2 separate regions of the Homo sapiens genome follow, and region 1 is linked to region 2. A link means that fine-mapping ties the variant in region 2 to the expression of a gene that starts in the linked region. Tissue or cell type: blood mononuclear cells. Region 2 holds a variant in brackets; the other region holds the start of a gene. All regions are shown on one strand. Distances are between the middles of the regions.

Evidence for each region. PIP is the estimated chance that this variant, and not a neighbour inherited with it, causes the effect.
Region 1: ABHD12 starts here. The variant in region 2 is fine-mapped to the expression of ABHD12 in blood mononuclear cells (TOPMed, PIP 0.92).

Annotation. Positions count from the first base shown.
Region 1 is chr20:25,388,744-25,395,175 of GRCh38, reverse strand. ABHD12 (abhydrolase domain containing 12, lysophospholipase) reads left to right here and starts at 4,341. Exons shown (of 13, transcript NM_001042472.3): 1 at 4,341-4,663. The coding sequence starts at 4,473. It overlaps LOC105372581 (a long non-coding RNA gene), which reads left to right. Exons shown (of 3, transcript XR_937403.3): 3 at 453-526. RefSeq lists silencers at 4,212-4,631, 4,672-4,721, 4,762-4,921, 5,092-5,251.
Region 2 is chr20:25,714,890-25,723,361 of GRCh38, reverse strand. All of the region lies in intron 1 of LOC107985400 (a long non-coding RNA gene), which reads right to left. Among named protein-coding and RNA genes, the nearest start is that of ZNF337, 22 kb to the right of the region's middle. RefSeq lists enhancers at 3,394-3,909, 3,910-4,425. The variant C/T (reference allele first, on the strand shown) is at 3,922.

The DNA.
Region 1 (6,432 bases), 330 kb after region 2:
GACGCGCACAGCTGACCAACCGTGGCTACTTCAGAATAAAATTAACACTGAGTTACAAACTGAAGTGGCAATGTTAAAATCCACGGTCCTTTGGTTAGGAGAAAAAGTACAGAGCTTGCAGTTGCAGCATCAGTTGCATTGTCATTTTAACCACACTCATATTTGTGTAAACAACTAAGAATATAACCAAAGTGACTATCCATGGGACCTTGTGAAAGCCCATTTACAGGGAGCGTTCACATCCAACATCACCTTTGATATTGGTGAATTACAAAACAAAATTCTTGTTTTAAATAAGCAAACTCAAAAATTTCAACCTGCTTTAGAAGACTGGACCAAATTCCAGCAACGCCTGGCAAGCCTCAACCCTTGGACCTATCTAAAGCACCACATTAACAATTTATATGTAGTTCTTGGAATAATGTTGTTTTGTCTCTGTCTTCTGCTCATAGTCTGTAAAATCGGACGGACTGCCAATCAGAGAATGAGAGATGCCCAGCCTGGCCTTACATTCTTTCAATTAATACATAAACACAAAGGGAGAGATGTTGGGAGCCAAAAAGGCCAAAGGGATCATGATCAACTCAGCATTCCACTGGAGGCTATATGATCAAATAGCAAACTGTTTATCACTATCACGAATGCAGGATGTGAGCAAACTCACACTGCGCCTGCCACCAAAAGGTTGGCTGAGGGCCTCACTCCCTGGCACGGGGCTCCTTGAAGTTATCTACTGAGAAATCTAGTGTCTATTGTTCAAACGATGCAGTCTGGCAAGCCTGCTGTGAACCAACCAGCCGACTGACAATTACCCCACAATCACCCCCCATTTATCCCTATCTGTTTTGCCTAATAAATATGGAGGGCTGTGTAAAGCTCAGGGCCCTTGTCCACTAGAGGCAAGGTGCCCCCTGACCCCTTCTTCCAAACATACTCTTGTCTCTTGTCTTTTATTCTCACGTTCACCACCCTTTGTTGTTACCCTAAGTCCATGCAGGTTGCAAGTGGCACCCCTGATCAACGACAGAATCGGGTGCTCTACAGTCAGGGAGGGCCATGTTAAACCCTTTTGTAAGCCTTGGGTTTTGAGTGAGATGGGGAGCCACTTAGGTGTTGTGAGCAAATAAATGACAGAATTAGACCTTGTAACAACAAGAAAACCCTATGTGGCAGCTGAATTAAGTGGACAGAAGTGAGGCAAAGTGGAGGCAGGAGACCAGTTAGGCTATTCAAATAATGGAGGTGAGAGATAACAGCAGTTTGGCCCAGGGTGGGGACCATGGAGGCGGTAAAATTTAATGGTTAAATTCTCATAGATTTTGAAAGCACAGCTGACAAGGCTTGGTGATAGACATGCTATAGCACAAGAAAGGAGAAGTCAAGGATGACCCCAGAATTGTGGCCCCAGGAACTGCAATAGAATTACCAGAGAAGGTCATGGATGGAGTTGGGGGTGGGAGAAGAGTTGGGAGCTCAGCATTGAAGTGGTGCTTGTCAGAAATCAGAGCAGAAATGATGAGGAGCCTAAGGGTCAAGGAGAGGTGTGGACCAATGATAAAAATGTGGGCATCACTAGCATGGGCTCAACCACCAAGAGTTGAGCACTGTGTGGGCAGGGCCTCGTGCCTGTAAGAAAGATTCAATACACGGTACAGATTTTTCCTCTCCAGCTCTTCCTTCCTTGTTTTTTTTTTTTTTTTTTTTTGGTTTGTTTGTTTGGTTTTTTTGAGTCGGAGTCTCACTCTGTCGCCCAGGATGGAGTGCAGTGGTGCGATCTCCGCTCACTGCAAGCTCCGCCTCCCGGGTTCACGCCATTCTCCTGCTTCAGCCTCCCAAGTAGCTGGGACTACAGGCGCCCGCCACCATGCCCGGCTAATTTTTTATATTGTTATTAGAGAGACGGGGTGTGAAACCGTGTTAGCCAGGATGGTCATGATCTCCTGACCTTGTGATCCGCCCGCCTCGGCCTCCCAATGTGCTGGGATTACAGGCATGAGCCACCGCGCCTGGCTGTTTTTTTTTTGTTGTTGTTGTTTTTTTAATTGAAGTGAGCGATAGAGTCAAAACCTCTTTTTTTTTTTTTACGTTTTAGTTATTTCCTAGATTTCCAATCTCTCCAGGATGTGTTACTACATCACTATAAAGAATTTATAATTTACATTCCATAGTATGTTTGTTTGTTTATTTTGAGATGGAGTCCTGCTCTGTCACCCAGGCTAGAGTGCAGTGGTGCAATCTCGGCTCACTGCAACCTCCGAATCCCAGCATCCCGGGTTCAAGCAATTCTCCTGCCTCAGCCTCCCAAGTAGATGGGATTACAGGCGTGCGCCACCACACCCAGCTAATTTTTTTGTTTGTTTGTTTTTGAGAGGAGTCTCCCTCTGTCGCCAGGCTGGAGTGCAGTGGCACAATTTCGGCTCACCACAACCTCCGACTCCCTGGTTCAAGCGATTCTCCTGCCTCAGCTTCCCAAGTAGCTGGGAATACAGGCACGCGCCACCATGCCCAGCTAATTTTTTTTTTTTTTTTTGAGACAGAAGTTTGCTTTTGTCCCCAAGACTGGGGTGCAATGGTGTGATCTCAGCTCACTGCAACCTCCGCCTCCCAAGTTCAAGCGATTCTCCTGCCTCAGCCTCCCAATTAGCTGGGATTATAGGGTTGTGCCACCATACCTGGCTAATTTTTGTGTTTTTAGTAGAGACGGGGTTTCACTACATTGGCCAGGATAGCCTCAATCTCCTGACCTCGTGATCCGCCCGCCTCGGCCTCCCAAAGTGCTGGGCTCACAGGCGTGAGACACCTCGCCCAGCCTTTTTTTTTTTTTTTTTTTTAAACAGAGTCTTGCTCTGTCACCCAGGCTTGTGCCACCACACCCGGCTAATTTTTGTATTTTTAGTAGAGACGGAGTTTCACCATGCTGGCCAGGCTGATCTGGCCTCCATCTCCTGTGCTTAAATGATCCACCCACCTCCGCCTCCCAAAGTGCTGAGATTACAGGCATGAGCCACTGAGCTCGGCCCATAATGTTTTTAAAAAGTATATCTGGAGATATTGACACAATTATGAATGCAGGCTGTAACACTTAGTAATATGGTCAATAAATTATTTTGCAATTTCAAAGTATCATTACAAAACTAATTTAAAAAGCAGCCGGGCGCGGTGGCTCATGCCTGTAATCCCAGCACTTTGGGAGGCCGAGGCGGGCGGATCACGGGATCGAGAGATCGAGACCATCCTGGCTACACAGTGAAACCCTGTCTCTACTAAAAATACAAAAAAATTAGCCGGGCATGGTAGCCGGCGCCTGTAGTCCCAGCTACTTGGGAGGCTGAGGCAGGAGACTGGCGTGAACCTGGGAGGCGGAGTTTGCAGTGAGCCGAGATCGCGCCACTGCACTCCAGCCTGGGCGAGAGCGAGACTCCGTCTCAAAAAAAAAAAAAAAAAAAAAGAAAAAACTAATATAAAAAGCTGTTGAATTTCTAAACGCATTTCCAATTGACCTTTATCAATTGCCAATAGTTTTCAAAGTGACAAATGCTGAAATTTCTAACGTTACTTTGGAATAAGCAAATATCTCTCTTTGTTATAGATCATCTGTAAAACTAATGCCATATTGAAGAAAGCCAAAGTTATAAAACTAAATTTGTGAAACAGCCCTTTATTCTTTCCTTTTCTCTTTCTAGGATGGGTTGAATTAGTACTAAATTTGGGTTTCATAAGGGCGAATTTATCTTTGAAATGGATTTTCCTCCCATCAGGTAGTCTTAATTGCTTTATAAAAATCTAAAATCTAACACAGGTTTTTAAAAAGTAAATTTTTCAAGCAGTTCATTTCCTGATGTTCGGCCCAAAAGTAAACACTGAGTATATACATTTACTTCAAATTAAAAACTGACGACCGGAAAGCATACTTTTAAAGGTAATGTCCTTGTGGAAAAAGAATTAAGAATCACGAGAACGGAACTGCTATTTGCTACCTCTGGTTTTCCGTTCACAGAAGCACGAGGAGCCCAGCGCTGCGGCTCTGCCTCGCTGGGCCACCCCTTTCGGGCACGACCGGGAGCGGGTGCTCCTCACACCGAGCGCCCGGGCGAGCACAGCTGCAGCCTGCGGATGGAGCCCAGAGCCCTGCCCTGCAGATGACGCGCCGCTGCAGCTTCGCCCACCCTCCCACAAAATGGCTGCGGGTGGCGCCAGGGATGCTGGGCGCGCGCTCCTTGGAACTAGAGAGGAGGTGGCCGGGGCGGGGCCGGGGGAGGGGGGTAGGGCAGAGCCGGCGGGAGCCCGGCGCTGATTGGCCGGCCTGGCTGGCGGGCCCCCGCCGCTGGTTCGTAGCCGGCGCAGCGGCCTGGGCTGGGATGTGAGGAGCGGCGGGTTCCGGGCTCCGGGCTCTGGGTGGCGGCGGCTGTGAGCGGCGGCACTGCGGCGCAGGCCAGCGGGCGCCGTCGGCGGCTGGCCCTGTCGGCCGCGGGATGAGGAAGCGGACCGAGCCCGTCGCCTTGGAGCATGAGCGCTGCGCCGCCGCGGGCTCGTCCTCCTCCGGCTCGGCCGCCGCGGCGCTGGACGCCGACTGCCGCCTGAAGCAGAACCTACGCCTGACGGGCCCGGCGGCGGCTGAGCCGCGCTGCGCAGCCGACGCGGGAATGAAGCGGGCGCTGGGCAGGTGAGGCTTCGCGCGGAGCGGGGGGGGGGGGGGGGCCGGTCCCTCACTTTGCGCAGGTGCGTCCCGCAGGGGGCCGCGGTACCTCCCAGCCCCTCCCAGAGTGGCCGTCCGCCCGATCCGCGGCCGCCCCCGTCCGCGCCTGTGTCCCGCATTTGGCCCGCGGCAGCCCCACCCCCGCTCCCTTCCCCAGGCACCGCGGCGGGAGCGCCCTGCCCTGCCGCTGACCCCCTGTGTCCTGCTCCGGCCCTCTCGCCAGGCACTCCTGGCCTAGCCTTGCACCCCGACCCTTTCCCGGGGAAGCCGGGGGGACCCTTACGCTGGGGGCTTGGCGCCGCCCGAAGTCATGACCCCGCGTGGGAGAGCAGGGTAGGGGGTGGGGAGTCCTTGGAAGATCCCTGGACGCCAGGCACAGCAGAGGCGGGAGGCAGAGGGGCCGGCGCCAGACCCTGAGAGCGCTGGGGCCCACTCGGACCTCCTCCTCCTGCTCTGCATCAGGCCCCACACCGAGCGCCCGGGCGGGCGCCCCTCGGGCTGGGCTGCGTGCGCGGAGCCTTACTGGCGCCTTGGGCCCTCGGCGGCTCTCCCCGGTAACTAGGGTCGGGGGCGTGCGTCGCTCAGAACTCGGGGACCTTTGGGGAAGGGCTCAGTGGGCGGCGGGGTGCTAGGGGAAGGAGGGACTCGGAGCATCGCAGCCGTCGGAGGGAAACCTGCCCTTCGCTCTGCTGGTGATGGTTCGTGGTACTTGAAATCTGTCCGCACAAGTTCGCCTCCTTGGGAATCATCTCGCAGTCCTGAGTCGTTTGGTTATTGGCGTTCAATAACCTTTGGGTTATTGGGTAGAAGATGAATGCGTTTATATAAAGCCACTTTCAAAACTGAGATGGGAACGTGTTTCATAGGGACAGATTTCTCCTCCCATCTGCTGGTTTCCTAATTATCTGGCTGTTGTAGAACGTAGCATTCCTGACAGCTTTGAAGCCTTGCTACTTCGTGGTGGTTTGAAGAAGTTACTATATGATGATCTCAGGCGTTGTAGCAGAGGCACTTCTTTTTTGACCATCTGGAATGCCCTTAGTTGACGCTGGCCACTTGAGTGTAAAATATGCGTATCGCTCCTAAGGAAAAGTAGAATTTCAACTTCATTGCTTAAAAAAATCATGAAATTAAACTATAGACACTTCTAAGTCGATGGTTTGACAGAAGGGCGGAGACTGATAGTTTTGTGTCTTTATGTGTAAAATTATGTAGCATCTGATCAATATCTTTTGTGAAACTAATCTGTTCTCTTTGCTATGGAAAGATTTATCTGCATTAAAAACTCATGATTTAACTTTAATACAATTTTATTAACAGACATGGCATAACGCTTAGATAAATTGGAAAATTCTTCCTTCGAAAAAATCAAATTGCCGGGCGCGGTGGCTCACGCCTGTAATGCCAGCACTCTGGGAGACCGAGGCGGGCAGATTATCAGAGGTCAGGAGTTCGAGACCAGCTTGACCAACATGGAGAAACCCCGTCTGTACTAAAAATACAAAATTAGCCGGGCGTGGTGGCGCATATGCCTGTAATCCCAGCTACTCGGGAGGCTGAGGCGGGAGAATCGCTTGAATCTGGGAGGCGGAGGTTGCGGTGAGCCAAGATCTCGCCGAACCGAGATCGCACCAGTGCACTCCAGCCTGGACAACAAGAACGGAACTCCGTCTCAAAAAAAAAAAAAAAAAAGAAAAAATCAAATTGTTTTACACAACGTTTGGGGAAACAGCGGC
Region 2 (8,472 bases):
AGAAATATTTCTGAGGACATGTTTTGTGCATAAGGAAATGAGTAAGAAGACATTTTCCCTACTTTTTGCAAAGACCTCAATCCTAAGGCTAAAATATGCATTACCTAATCTCATAATTCTATCTCGTTTTTTAAAATTTTAGATTCAGGGGTACCTGTGCAGGTTTTTTATATGGGTATATTTTCTGATGCTGAGGTTTGGGCTTCTAATGATCTGTTGCCCAAGTAGCAAACATAGTACCCAATAAGTAATCTCCCAACCCTTGTTCCCCATCCTTCCTCCCCTAATTTAGAGTGTCCCATGTCTACTCTTCCCATCTTTGTGTCCATGTGTACCCAACAACATCATATCTAATATGGGAAAGTTGAAAGCATTTCCTGTAAGAACTAGAACAATACAAGGATGCCGACTTTCACTATTCTTATTCAACACAGTACTGGAATTTCTTGCCAGAGCAATCAGGCAGAAGAAAGAAATAAAATGCATCCAAATTGGAAAAGAGGAAGTCAAGTTACCCCTGTTTGCTGATGATATAATATTATTCCTGAAGAACCCTAAAGATGCTGCCCAAAATTCTTAAATTTGACAAAGGAAGCAGTGAGCGTCAGGATACAAAATTAATGTACAAATATCAGTAGTGTTTATATACACAAATAATGAGCCAGCCAAAGGCCAAATCAAGAAAACAATCCCATTTACAATAGCTACAAAAAAATACCGAGGAATATCTTTGACCTAGAAGCTGAAAGACTTCTAGAAGGAGAACTACAAAACACTGATGAAAAAAATCCTAGATGACATAAACAAATGAAAAACCCCCACGCTTATAAATTAGAATATGCAATATCATTAAAATGACCATACTGTTCAAGGCAAACTACAGATTCAACACAATCCCTATCAAATTACCAATGTTATTTTTCACAGAATTAGAAAAAAAAATCCTAAAATTAATATGGAACCAAAAAAAGGGCCTGAACAGCCAAAGCAATTCTAAGGAAGAAGAACAAAGCTGGAGGCATCACATTACCTGTTTTCAAATTATACTACAAAACTATAGAAACCAAAACAGCATTGTACTGGCATAACATAGACACATAGATCAATGGAGCAGAATAGACAACTCAGAAATAAAGCCCCATACCTACAACCAACTTATCTTTTAAAAAGTCAACAAAAATATATTCTGGGGAAATGACACCCTATAAATAAGTGGTGCCAGTAAAATTGGATAAACACATATGGGATAATAAAACTGGACCCATACCTCTCAAAATATACAAAAATAAACTCAATATGGATCAAAGACCAAAGTGTAAGACCTGAAACCACAGAAATCCTAGAAGAAAACTTAGGAAAAACCCTTCCAGACATTGGTCTAGGCAAAGAATTAATGACCAAGTCCTCAAAAGCAAATGCAATAAAAATAAACAGACGAGATAATTTAACTAAAAAGTTTCTGCACAGCAAAAGAAATAATTAATAAAGTAAACAGACAACCTATAAAGTGGGAAAATATATTTGCAAACTATGCATCCAACAAAGCGCTTACATCCAGAATCTACAAGGAACTCTAACAACAAAACAACAAGAAACAACCCCATTAAAAAGCGGGCAAAGGATACAAACAGACATTTTTCAAAAGAGTACCTACAAGCAGTCAACAAACATGAAAAATGCTCAATATTTCTAATCATCAGAGAAATAAAAATTAAAATAGTAAAATACAATCTTATACCAGTCAGAATGGCTATTACTAAAAAGTCAAAAAAAACAAAACAGATGTTGATGAGGATGTGAAGAAAAGGTAATGCTTATATACTGTTGGTAGAAATGTAAATAAGTACAACCTCTACGGAAAACAATAAGGAGATTTCTCAAAGAACTAATAACAGAACTACCATTTGATCCAATTCCATTACTGGGTATATACCCAAAGGAAAAGAAATCAGTATATCAAAAATATACCTGCACTCATGTTTATCACAGACCTATTCACAATTGCAAAAAAAGAAATAAACATACATGTCCATCAGCGGAGAACTGGATATAGAAAATACTACTCAGCCATAAAATCATGTCTTTTGCAGCAACACTGATGGTATTGAAGCCCATTATCTTAAGTGAAAAACTCAGAAACAGAAAGTCAAATACTGCATGCCATCACTTGTAAATGAGAGCTAAACAATTGATACATATGGACATACAGAGTGAAATAATACGCATTGGAGACTACAAAAGATAGGAGGGTGGGAGAGAGGTGATGGTTGAAAATTTACCTATTGGGTACAGTGATCACTATTAAGGTGACGGGTACACTAAAAGCCCAGTCTACCCAACAGTATGCAATATATGCATGTAAGAAATCTGCACTTGTACCTACTAAAGAAATGAAAAATAAAAATTAAAAAGTATAACAAGTACAACTATGTAAGGTACATAATCTTTTATGGTGATTGGAGGCTCCCATTGAAAAAAAAACATAAGCCAGGATTCTGCTCCAAGACAGCCGAATAGGAACAGCTCCCGTCTGCAGCTCCCAGCATGATCAATGCAGAAGATGGCAATTTCTGCATTTCCAACTGAGGTACCTGGTTCATCTTACTGGGACTGGTTGGACAGTGGATGCAGCCCATGGAGGGTGAGCCAAAGCAGGGTGGTGCATCACCTTACCTGGGAAGTGCAAGGGGTCAGGGGATTTCCCTTTCCCAGCCAAGGGAAGCCAAGTCAGACTGAACCTAGAAAATCCGGACACCCTCACACAAATACTGTGCTTTACCTACAGTCTTAGCAAATGGCACACCCAGAGATTATATCTCGCACCTGGCTTGGCAGGACCCACACCCACAGAGCCTTGCTCACTGCTACAGCAGCAGTCTGAGATCGACCTGTGAGGCAGCAGTCTGGCAGTGGGAGAGGTGTCCGCCATTGCTCAGGCGTGAGTAGGTAAACAAAGTGGCCTGGGAAGCTTGAACGGGGCAGAGCCCACCGCAGCTCTGCAAGGCCTGCTGCCTCTGTAGACCCCACCTCTGGGGGTGGGGAATAGCTAAACAAAAGACAGCAGAAACTTCTGCAGACTTAAATATCCCTGTCTGACAGCTCTGAAGAGAGAAGTGGTTCTCCCAGCATGGTGTTTGAGCTCTGAGAATGGATAGACTGCCTCCTCAAGTGGGTCCCTGACACGCATGTAGCCAAACTGGGAGACACCTCCCAGTAGGGGCCAACTGACACATCATACAGGAGGGTGCCCCTCTGGGATGAAGCTTCCAGAGGAAGGATCAGGCAGCAACATTTGCTGTTCTGCAATATTTGCTGTGCTGCAGCCTCTCCTAGTGATATCCAGGCAAAGAGGGTCTGGAGTGGACCTCCAGCAAACTCCAACAGACCTGCAGCTGAGGGACCTGACTCTTAGAAGGAAAACTGACAAACAGAAAGGAATAGCATCAACATCAACAAAAGGGACATCCACAGCAAAACCCCATCTGTTGGTCACCAGCATCAAAGACCAAAGGTAGATAAAACAAGAAAAATGGGTCTTTGGGATGGATGGAGCCAAGATGACTGAACAGGAACAGCTCTGGTCTACAGCTCCCAACGTGAGCGATGCAGAAGATGGGTGATTTCTGCATTTCCATCTGAGGTACCGGGTTCATCTCACTAGGGAGTGCCAGAGAGTGGGCACAGGACAATGGGTGCAGTGCACCGTGCACGAGCTGAAGCAGGGCGAGGCATTGCCTCACTTGGGAAGCGCAAAGGGTCAAGGAGTTCCCTTTCCTAGTCAAAGAAAGGGGTGACAGATGGCATCTGGAAAATTGGGTCACTCCCACCCTAATGCTGCACTTTTCGGACAGGCTTAAAAAACGGCACAACAGAAGATTATATCCCACACCTGGCTTGGAGGGTCCTATGCCCATGGAGTCT[C/T]GCTGATTGCTAGCACAGCAGTCTGAGATCAAACTGCAAGGCGACAGTGAGGCTGGGGGAGGAGCGCCTGCCATTGCCCAGGCTTGCTTAGGCAAACAAAGCAGCCAGGAAACTCGAACTGGGTGGAGCCCACCACAGCTCAAGGAGGCCTGCCTGCCTCTGTAGGCTCCACCTCTGGGGGCAGGGCACAGACAAACAAAAAGACAGCAGGAACCTCTGCAGACTTAAATGTCCCTGTCTGACAGCTTTGAAGAGAGCAGTGGTTCTCCCAGCACACAGCTGGAGATCTGAGAACGGGCAGACTGACTCCTCAAGTGGGTCCCTGAACCCTGACCCCCGAGCAGCCTAACTGGGAGACACCCCCAGTAGGGGCAGACTGACACCTCACACGGCCGGGTACTCCTCTGAGACAAAACTTCCAGAGGAAAGATCAGACAGCAGCATTCACGGTTCACGAAAATCTGCTATTCTGCAGCCACCGCTGCTGGTACCCAGGCAAACAAGGTCTGGAGTGGACTTCTAGCAAACTCCAACAGACCTGCAGCTGAGGGTCCTGTCTGTCAGAAGGAAAACTAACAAACAGAAAGGACATCCACATCAAAAACCCATCTGTACATCACCATCATCAAAGACCAAAAGCAGATAAAACCACAAAGATGGGGAAAAAACAGAGCAGAAAAATTGGAAAAACTGGAAACTCTAAAAAGCAGAGCACCTCTCCTCCTCCAAAGGAATGCAGTTCCTCACCAGCAATGAAACAAAGCTGGACGGAGAATGACTTTGATGAGTTGAGAGAAGAAAGCTTCAGATGACAAAACTACTCTGAGCTACAGGAGGAAATTCAAACCAAAGGCAAAGAAGTTAAAAACTTTGAAAAAAATTAAGACGAATGTATAACTAGAATAACCAATACAGAGAAGTGCTTAAAGGAGCTGAAGATGCTGAAAGCCAAGGCTCAAGAACTACGTGAAGAATGCAGAAGCCTCAGGAGCCGATGCAATCAAATGGAAGAAAGGGTATCAGTGATGGAAGATGAAATGAATGAAATGAAGCGAGAAGGGAAGTTTAGAGAAAAAACAATAAAAAGAAATGAATAAAGCCTCCAAGAAATATGGGACTATGTGAAAAGACCAAATCTACATCTGACTGGTGTACCTGAAAGTGATGGGGAGAATGGAACCAAGTTGGAAAACGCTCTGCAGGATATTATCCAGGAGAACTTACCCAATCTAGCAAGGCAAGCCAGCATTCAGATTCAGGAAATACAGAGAATACCACAAAGATACTCCTCGAGAAGAGCAACTCCAAGACACATAATTGTCAGGTTCACCAAAGTTGAAATGAAGGAAAAAATGTTAAGGGAAGCCAGAGAGAAAGGTCGGGATACCCACAAAGGGAAGCCCATGAGACTAACTGCTGATCCCTTCACAGAAACTCAACAAGCCAGAAGACAGTGAGGGCCAACATTCAACATTCTTAAAGAAAAGAATTTTCAACCCAGAATTTCATATCCAGCCAAACTAAGCTTCATAAGTGAAGGAGAAATAAAATACTTTACAGAAAAGCAAATGTTGAGAGATTTTGTCACCACCAGGCCTGCCCTAAAAGAGCTCCTGAAGGAAGCACTAAACATGGAAAGGAACAACCGGTAACAGCCACTGCAAAATCATGCCAAATTGTAAAGACCATCAAGGCTAGGAAGAAACTGCATTAACTAACGAGCAAAATAACCAGCTAACATCATAATGACAGGATCAAATTCACACAAAGCAATATTAACTTTAAATGTAAATGGAATAAATGCTCCAAATAAAAGACACAGACTGGCAAATTGGATAAAGAGTCAAGACCCATCAGTGTGCTGTATTCATGAAACCCATCTCACGTGCAGAGACACAGATAGGCTCAAAACAAAAGGATGGAGGAAGATCTACCAAGCAAATGGAAAACAAAAAAAGGCAGGGTTGCAATCCTAGTCTCTGATAAAACAGACTTTAAACCAACAAAGAACAAAAGAGACAAAGAAGGCCATTGCATAGTGGTAAAGGGATCAAATCAACAAGAAGAGCTAACTATCCTAAATATATATGCACCCAATACAGGAGCACCCAGATTCATAAAGCAAGTCCTGAGTGACCTACAAAGAGACTTAGACTCCCACACAATAATAATGGGAGACTTTAACACCCCACTGTCAACATTAGACAGATCAACGAGACAGAAAGTTAAGAAGGATACCCAGGAATTGAACTCAGCTCTGCACCAAGCAGACCTAATGGACATCTACAGAACTCTCCACCCCAAATCAACAAAATACACATTTCTTTCAGCACCACACCACACCTATTCCAAAATTGACCACATACTGGGAAGTAAAGCTCTCCTCAGCAAATGTAAAAGAACAGAAATTATAACAAACTGTCTCTCAGACCACAGTGCAATCAAACTAGAACTCACGATTAAGAAACCCACTCAAAACCACTCAACTACATGGAAACTGAACAACCTGCTCCTGAATTACTACTGGGTACATAACAAAATGAAGGCAGAAATAAAGATGTTCTTTGAAACCAACGAGAACAAAGACACAACATACCAGAATCTCTGGGACACATTCAAAGCAGTGTGTAGAGGGAAATTTATAGCACTAAATACCCACAAGAGAAAGCAGGAAAGATCCAAAATTGACACCCTAACATCACAATTAAAAGAACTAGAAAAGCAAGAGCAAACACATTCAAAAGCTAGCAGAAGGCAAGAAATAACTAAAATCAGAGCAGAACTGCAGGAAATAGAGACACAAACAACCCTTCAAAAAATTAATGAATCCAGGAGCTGGTTTTTCGAAAGGATCAACAAAATTGATAGACCACTAGCAAGACTAATAAAGAAGAAAAGAGAGAAGAATCAAATAGACGCAATAAAAAACGATAAAGGGGATATCACCACTGATCCCACAGAAATACAAACTACCATCAGAGAACATTACAAACACCTCTATGAAAATAAACTAGAAAATCTAGAAGAAATGGATATATTCCTCGACACATACACCCTCCGAAGACTAAACCAGGAAGAAATTCAATCTCTGAATAGACCAATAACAGGAGCTGAAATTGTGGCAACAATCAATAGCTTACCAACCTAACAGAGTCCAGGACCAGATGGATTCACAGCTGAATTCTACCAGAGGTACAAGGAGGAACTGGTACCATTCCTTCTGAAACTATTCCAATCAATAGAAAAAGAGGGAATCCTCCCTAACTCATTTTATGAGGCCAGGATCATCCTGATACCAAAGCCGGGCAGAGACACAACCAAAAAAGAGAATTTTAGACCAATATCCTTGATGAACATTGATGCAAAAATCCTCAATAAAATACTGGCAAACCGAACCCAGCAGCACATTAAAAAGCTTATCCACCATGATCAAGTGGGCTTCATCCCTGGGATGCAAGGTTGGTTCAATATACGCAAATCAATAAATGTAATCCAGCATATAAACAGAACCAAAGACAAAAACCACATGATTATCTCAATAGATGCAGTAAAGGCCTTTGACAAAATTCAACAACCCTTCTTGCTAAAAACTCTCAATAAATTAGGTATTGATGGGACGTATCTCAAAATAATAAGAGCTACCTATGACAAACCCACAGCCAATATCATACTCAATGGGCAAAAACTGGAAGCATTCACTTTGAAAACTGGCACAAGACAGGGATGCCCTCTCTCACCACTCCTATTCAACATAGTGTTGGAAGTTCTGGCCAGGGCAATTAGGCAGGAGAAGGAAATAAAGGGTATTCAATTAGGAAAAGAGGAAGCCAAATTGTCCCTGTTTGCAGATGACATGATTGTATATCTAGAAAACCCCATTGTCTCAGCCCAAAATCTCCTCAAGCTGACAGGCAACTTCAGCAAGGTCTCAGGATACAAAATCAATGTACAAAAATCACAAGCATTCTTATACACCAATAACAGACAAACAGCCAAATCATGAGTGAACTCCCATTCACAATTGCTTCAAAGAGAATAAAATACCTAGGAATCCAACTTACAAGGGACGTGAAGGACCTCTTCAAGGAGAACTACAAACCACTGCTCAATGAAATAAACGAGGATACAAACAAATGGAAGAACATTCCATGCTCACGGGTAGGAAGAATCAATATCGTGAAAATGGCCATACTGCCCAAGGTAATTTATAGATTCAATGCCATCCCCATCAAGCTACCAATGACTTTCTTCACAGAATTGGAAAAAACTACTTTAAAGTTCATATGGAACCAAAAAAGAGCCCGCAACGCCAAGTCAGTCCTAAGCCAAAAGAACAAAGCTGGAGGCATCACACTACCTGACTTCACACTATACTACAAGGCTACAGTAACCAAAACAACATGGTACTGGGGTATCAAAACAGAGATATAGATCAATGGAACAGAACAGAGCCCTCAGAAATGACGCCGCATATCTACAACTATCTGATCTTTGACAAACCTGAGAAAAACAAGCCATGGGGAAAGGATTCCCTATTTAATAAATGGTGCT